Linked DNA regions of Homo sapiens. The protein of the gene in region 1 interacts with the protein of each later gene in a biochemical or structural test. Each region holds a gene or a part of one and is shown in the gene's direction. Other genes may lie near its edges.

Region 1 (3,915 bases):
GTGAAACCCCATCTCTACTAAAAATACAAAAATTAGCTGGACATGGTGGCGGGCACCTGTAATCCCAGCTACTCAGGAGGCTGAGGCAAGAGAATCGCTTGAACCCAGGAGGCAGAGTTTGTGGTGAGTTCAGATCATGCCACTGGACTCCAACCTCGGCAACAGAGTGAGACTTCGTGTCAAAAAAAAAAAAAAAAGGAGATAAGTGTCAAAAAAAAAAAAAAGGAGCTAAATGGCCTCTTAGCTACCTCACATTCACAAACAAGCACAGCTTTTTTGTTTGTTTGTTTTAATTTTTATTTTAGGCTTGGGTGTACATGCGCAGGTTTGATCTATAGATAAACTTATGTCACGGTTTACCTATGTAACTGTTGTGGAGATTATTTTGTCACCCAGGTATTAAGCCTAGTACTGAATAGTTATTTCTTCTGCTCCTCTCCCTTCTCCTACCCTCTACCCTCAAGTAGGCCCCATTGTCTGTTCTTCCCTTCTTTTTTTTTTTGAGATGAAGTCTCGCTCTGTTGCCCAGGCTTGAGTGCAGTGGTGCAATATCTGCTCACTGCAACCTCTGCCTCCCAGGTTCAAGCAGTTCTCCTGCTCAGCTTCCCAGGTAGCATGTACCACCACACCAGGCTAAATTTTTTTTTGTACTTTTGGTAGAGATGGGGTTTCACCATGTTGGCTAGGCTGGTCTTGAACTCTTGACCTCAGGTGATTTGCCTGCCTCAGCCTCCCAAAGTGCTGGGATTACAGGCTTGAGCCTATTGTTTCCTTCTTTGAGCCCATGAGTTCTCATCATTTAGCTCCTACTTATAAGGGCAGTATTTGGTTTTCTGTTCCTGCATTAGTTTGCTAAGGATAACGGCCTCTAGCTCTACCCGTGTTCACGCAAAAGACATGATCTCATTTCTTTTTATGGCTTCATAGTATTCCTTGGTGTATATATACCACGTTTTCTTTATCCAATCTGTCATTGATGGGCATTTAGGTTGACCCACTTTTTACTATTGTGAATAGTGCTACAGTGAACATTTGCATGCATGTATCTTTATAGTAGAATGATTTATACTCCTCTGGGTGTATACCCAATAATGGGATTGCTGGGTCGAATGATAGTTCTGTTTTTAACTCTTTGAGGAATTGCCACATTGCAAAACGGAGCTTTAAAGTTTGTTTTCATGCCTTCTGGAAGTGAAATTCTAGAAATGTAAAGAATAAATATGAAATAACATTCTTTTTGCACTTTTGAGCCATCCGTCAGTCAAGAGAGGCGACCTTTCCGGGGAACCCAGCAGCTTTCAGGGGTTACCTGGGAGCCCAGCCTTTGGGGGCCATGGGCAGGCCCCCCACTTACTCATTACTTGGGTTTGGAAGGGTTGGAAGCTCCAGCTGAAGTTGTGCTAGACTTGTGCTTAACTAGGGAGACAGGTCACACCTACCAAAACTCACAAAAACAAAAGTGCCAGTTTTTGTCAGAGAATGAGATTCCTGTATGTTCCAGAAGTTCCTGTTGACTTATTGGCCAATTGAATGTTAATCCTCCAGAAGACAGGTCTACATGGAAAGTCGTGGTACCTATCACCACACAGTTTTGGGTGAGCCTGGAATCAGTGGGAGGATTAGTTGGGGGACTTAAATGTCTGACAACAGCCAGACCCACCAAGGGATGCCCACTCCTGCTTTTGCTGCCTCTGTTATTCATTTCTCGATATCCTTTCTTCTGACATGGTTTTTCGTCCGCTCTATAAATTACCCCTCATTGGGCTGTAATAAAGTGCTTGAATTTCCTGTTCCTGCTCTGAGAATATTTTATCTTTTCAGTGACTTCTGTACACACTGAATCTCATTTATTAGGTATTTATTTTATTTAATTCTCAAAGTTTGAGGGTACCCTGTAGTTACCCTGATATACTGCCTAAAGTATGTTTACAAAGAAGTCAATGCAGAATTATTCATTAAGAAAACTAGTGATTTAAACCATAAGTGTTTTAATCATATTAGGACCTCCTCCCCACCCCTCCCTTTTTTAAAAATAGAGACCGGGTCTTACTATGTTGCCCAAGCTGATCTTGATCTCCTAGGCTCAAGTGATCCTCCTGTCTTGGCCCCCTAGAGTGCTGGCATTACAGGTGTGAGCCACCAGGCTTGGCCTTGTATTAAAACCTCTTTATCATTTCATCCTATCCCTTTCAAGGAAGTTCAGAAAAAAGATTAAAGCTTGAAACTCGGAAAAATAATATAAACAGTTTGTAGTTGGCTGATGCCTGTAATCCCAGCACTTTGGGAGGCCGAGGCAGGTGGATCACGAGGTTAGGAGTTCAAGACCAGCCTGGCCAAGATGGTGAAACCCGTCTCTACTGAAAATACAAAAATTAGCCACACGTGGTGGTGGATACCTGTAATCCCAGCTACTCGGGAGGCTGAGACAGAGAATTGCTTGAACCCGGGAGGCGGAGGTTGCAGTGAGCCAAGGTTGTACCACTGCACACCAGCCTGGGCGACAGAGCGAGACTCCATCTCAAAAAAAAAAAAAATAGCTTCTAGTTTAAAATCTCAAATGCAGGTGCTGATTTATTGAGAACTTTTTTCCTTAGTAGTCTTTCCTAGAACAGATTATAATTAAAAGTTAGTTTATACCGGCTGGGTGCGGTGGCTCACGCCTGTAATCCCAGCACTTTGGGAGGCCGAGGCGGGTGGATCATGAGGTCAGGAGATCAAGACCGTCCTGGCTAACACCATGAAACCCTGTCTCTACTAAAAATACAAAAAATTAGACAGGCGTGGTGGCATGCATCTGTAATCCCAGCTACTTGGGAGGCTGAGGCAGGAGAATCACCTGAACCCGGGAGGCAGAGGTTGCAGTGAGCCGAGATCGTGCCACTGCATTCCGGTCTGGGCGACAGAGCAAGACTCTGTCCCTCCCCCCAAAAAAAAAAAAAAAAGTTAGCTTATACCTTAAAAATTAGGTTTACATTTAGGAAAATTTCTCCTCTCTCATTTTTTCAGTCTATGTATTTAAATATTTATGTGAAGAATCCAGCAACAGTGTTAGGATAGGGGGGTTGTGGGTTTGGGGCAGTATTAGATTTATCATATTTTAAGTTCACTGTTAAGGAAACAGATCCCCTCCATGGTGTCATCCTAAAGCAGGCCTCCTGAGCCACCTGCAGCGGTGGTGACGTTCTGTTTCCTGGGAGCCTCTGCACCAGTGGCTTTTACTGTGGCAGCCTCTCTCAGGAAGGTCCTACACTACATGCAGGCCAGGTTGGTAGATGTGGCAAAGCCATCAGAATGAGGTTTTTGATGCAGAATAAGAGGGGCTTACATCTGATCTGAAGGAAAAACGTGGGCCTTCTGCAGTCCTTGATGTTAGGACTGTAATCTGTGGTTTTCCAGGCCAGTGACTCTCATAACCATGCTCCTGGCAGACACCAGGGGCTTGGCAAGGTAGCCTGAGAGGTGGGTGCTTGGTTGGTTTCTACAAATGCAGAGAAATGTAGACTTTTTACGGTGTTAACTTTTTGTCTTATTAATCTTTTTTAAAATCATTGGTGCCTACTTATTAACACATGAACAAAGAGCAATTAACAAAGCACCCAAGCCAGCACATGGCTTCTTGCTTACGTTTTCCACGGTGTGGTTTTTACATTCAGACATGATTTACATATGTTTTTCCTCATATAAATTGTTTTTAGTTCATATGTTTTTCCTCATATAAGTTGTTCTTAGTTCATGTGACAGAATTAAACGTATCCCTATGTATCAAGGTATTCTAAGACTACCTTCAGGGACCATTTGTATAGTTCATTACTAGAAGTTTCTCTGAACATGTAGAACACTGAAAAAAGTATTTACTTTTTTTTTTTTTTTTTTTTTTTGAGACAGAGTTTCACTCTTATTGCCCAGGCTGGAGTG
Region 2 (3,915 bases), on another chromosome or scaffold:
GATCCTGCTTTAAGGGACTTGTTTCTTCCTCTTACCAAACGGAGGTGTGGCTCATGAGGACTCAGCCTTGCGTCCTGGCTGTGGCTGTGTCTTTTTGCTGTCAAATGCTGTGAACGCCGTCCGGTGTAGGGTGGTGGGTAATGCCTTGTGGGGGAGGGGAAAGATGAATAACTCACCATCTTTTTTTTTTTTTTTTTTCTTTTTTGAGACGGAGTCTCACTCTGTTGCCCAGGCTGGAGCGCGGTGGCACAATCTCAGCTCACTGCAACCTCTGCCTCCCAGATTCAAGCAATTCTCCTACCTCAGCCTCCCGAGTAGCTGAGATTACAGGCACCCGCCACCATGCCCAGCTAATTTTTTGTATTTTTTAGTAGAGACGTGGTTTCTCCATGTTGTCCAGCTGGTCTTGAACTCCTGACCTCAGGAATTCACCATCTTTCAATTCAACATGCATAGTTCACCATCTTGAATTGGAAGCCCTTGCTTTCATTATTTTGTAAAAGGTTTTTTTTTTTCTGATTATAAAAGTAATTTGATGAGTTGGGTGCGGTGGTGTGCGCCTGTAGTCCCAGCTAATTGGGAGGCTGAGGCGAGAGGATCACTTGAGCCAGGAGATCCAGGCTGTGGTGAACCGAGATTGCACCACTGCCCTCCAGCCTGGGTGACAGAGTGAGACCCTGTCTCAAATAATAAATAAATAAAAGTAATTTGTTTTTTCTTCAAGTTACCCTGCTGCACAGAGAGAACTTCATTAACATTTTGGTGTATTTACTCCTACTATTTCCCTTCAGATAGCCGAAGAAAAATAATAGTTTAGAGAATTTCACATGGGTGTCTGCACAGCCCAGGGCGGGAAGTGGTGTTCATCACCTGGAGACCCTGGTCTGGACCTGGCTCCTCTCTGTGAACCCCACCTGGGCCCACCTCTCCTCTCCTGGAGCCCCAGCAAGGGTTCCCAGCTCCAGTGAGTCCTCTCACACCCAAGGTGGTGATGCTGTCCTCTCCCCAGAGGACAGGCTGAGAAACACCGGGCTTGTGGTTGCATTCTCAGGTGTCTGAATTCTCTACAGGAAGATTTGCATGTTCTGCCTTTGGTTTGATGACAGTCTGGTTGCCCAGGCATGGCCCTGATGCCTCACAGCCTGGGTCTGTGCCTGTGGTAGGGAGTTCGGGTGCCAGCTGTGTGCTGAAGTTGTAACTGCTCCTGCGCCTTTTGTAGTTTTCTTCACTCCATCTTGGCTGGATTTGGGAGGATCATGTGTTCTCGAGTGTGAGAAACACAGGCAACCACGAAGCGTTTGACTTACTGACACACACATTGGGTTGGACCCTGGTGATGCCGTGTCTGAGGAGTCTTAGGCCGGGTCTCCACCTCTTCTGTGGCCGGCTTTTTCGATGTACTTTATCTGCAGTAACGTCACAGCCCTCCAGAATCCGCCCGGTCTCTAGAGCACAGTGGAAATTCCTTCTGCCCAGAAGAGCCATGGTCTGCCCTTTGTGGCTCCCAGCTCCACTCCCCTCGCCTCTCCCACCGTTTGCTGGTGGTTTGGCCCTGGGCTGGCTTCCGCGGCCTCCGCGCTGGCACAGGTCTTCCCTCCCAGGCCTGGGCCTTTCCAGCTGGTTGGGCAAGGCTGAGATAAGGATGTAGACTTGAATTCACTGCTAGCTGGGGGGTTGGTTTTGTTTTTGTTTTTTTAAGTATTATTTTTTTAACACATTTCAAGTCAAGAAAGTGCTTTTTAATGCCTGATTCACCGTAATGGCTGGGCTAGGTTGGAGGCAGTACTGACGTGAGGCCTGGAGCGGCCCTGGGACCTAAGCAAGGCACCGCCGCCGGGCTGCAGAGCAGGGCTGCAGGTGCACTTAGCTTCTCCCATACCCCCCTCCGCAGCAGTGGTCTGAGAGCCTCCATCGGCCAGGTACGGTCAGGCCCTGCACAGTCAGGCCCTGGGCTAGCATGATGGGGAGACAAGTGAGGCCCCTGTCTACGCTCCGGTGGGAGGGAGGCATCAGCACAAGCACACACAGACATCTCAGATCCTTTAAAGACGCTGATGAGGTTGAGGTGATGTTGGACAGTGGCAGGGGACGGGGGTGGGGCCGGGGGCAGGGGCAGGGGCAGGGGCGGGGGTGGGGATGAGCTTCCTCCAGTGAATGCGATATTGTGAGCTGGTTGGCGGAGCTAAGTTTTGGGGTGAGGCTCTGTGGACCGTGTTGAAGTCCTGGCCGGCTCTCACCCCAGTAGGCACACAGGCACACAGCACCATTGGGGTGATGTGGCTGGGGGTGTCCCAGAGCTGTGCAGGGAGGGTCTCACAGTGAGACTGGGTGCTGGGCAGTGACTCGGTCTGTGGGTACAGGGGTCAGCAGAATGGGAAGCAAGCCCAAGGAGACACATTGGCACCAGAATGAAGACAAGGCCGGCCGGTGCCTGTAGCATGTGACTGCCCCGTCTGCAGAGAGGCTGTGCTGCGAGCCCCACCCTCTGGGGGCTTCAGGCCGAGTGGGGATGTCTGGGTGCTGACCCAGGCATCGCAAAGCACACTTCCTGCCGGGGTAACTGCTGATGATTTTTAGGTCTGTTATTTCAGAATCGTTATAGCTAGGGGCCATTATTTTGAAAACCTGAACAAAAAGAATTATTCACTGTGTTAATACCACATTTAGTGACTGTTGAGCTGAATGTGGCTGAGCAGAAGAAAGCACCTGCTGTGCTGATGGCTGACTGTGGACCCGGACCGGGACCCTGAGTGCTGCCCCACTCGAGGGAGGGGCCCAGAGCAGCCTCCTTCCTCTCCTCCCAGGCGAGCCTTTCATACCTGTCCTTCTCTCAGACTTTCCCTCCTACTTCATGCTCGCCCATGCCTGTCACGCAGACCCTGCCTGACCTGCACCTGCTCCCACACCCGTGGTGGATGAGCCCCATCACCCGTACCTGTACCCCCCTCACCCGCTCCTGTACCCCCTCACCCGCTCCTATACCCCCTCACCCACACCTGTACCCCCCTCACCCGCTCCTGTACCCCCTCACCCGCGCCTGTGCCCCCTCACCCGTGCCTCTGCCCCCCTCACCCGCGCCTGTGCCCCCCTCCCCAGCGCCTGTGCCCCCTCACCCACGCCTGTGCCCTCCTCACCCATGCCGGTGCCCACCACACCTGCGCCTTTGCCCCTTCACCTGTGTCTGCACCGCCCTCACCTGTGCTGCCTTCACCTGCACCCCCTCACCCACACCTGTGCCACCCTCGCCCGCACCTGTGCCCCCCTCACCCACGTCTGCACTGCCCTCACCTGTGCTGCCCTCACCTGTGCCCCCCACCTGTGCCTGTGCCCCCCTCACCTGCTCCTCCCTCACCTGCTCCTCCCTCACCTGCTCCTGCACCACCTTCACGTGCGCCCCCCACCTACATCTGCACCTCACCTATGCTACCCTCACCTGTGCCCCCCCACCCGCACCTGTGCCCCCCTCACCCACGTCTGCACTGCCCTCACCTGTGCTGCCCTCACCTGTGCCCCCCACCTGTGCCTGTGCCCCCCTCACCTGCTCCTCCCTCACCTGCTCCTCCCTCACCTGCTCCTGCACCACCTTCACGTGCGCCCCCCACCTACATCTGCACCTCACCTATGCTACCCTCACCTGTGCCCCCCCACCCGCACCTGTGCCCCCCTCACCTGTGCCTGTGCAGCCGTCACCCATGCCATTCCTCACCTGTACCCCTCACCCATGCCTGTGCCGTTCCTCACCCGTGCCTGTGCCCCCCTCACCCGTGCCTGTGCCTCCCTCACTTGCGCTGTGCCCCCCTCACCTGTGCTGTGCCCTTTGCCTTGTGGCTGCTCCTGCACTTGGTTCTCTCTCTGTTGGTCGGTTTTCCCATTGGCTGTGCAGCTCCCTGGTGTGCACGTGGCTCTGAGTCTTCC

The links.
Region 2: the proteins of GID4 (region 1) and MAEA form a complex in vitro, tested with the Homo sapiens proteins (one study listed by BioGRID).

What each region holds. Positions count from the first base shown.
Region 1 is NC_000017.11:18,049,155-18,053,069, forward strand, and holds part of GID4 (glucose-induced degradation protein 4 homolog), read left to right. Parts: intron 1-3,915.
Region 2 is NC_000004.12:1,292,707-1,296,621, forward strand, and holds part of MAEA (E3 ubiquitin-protein transferase MAEA), read left to right. Parts: intron 1-3,915.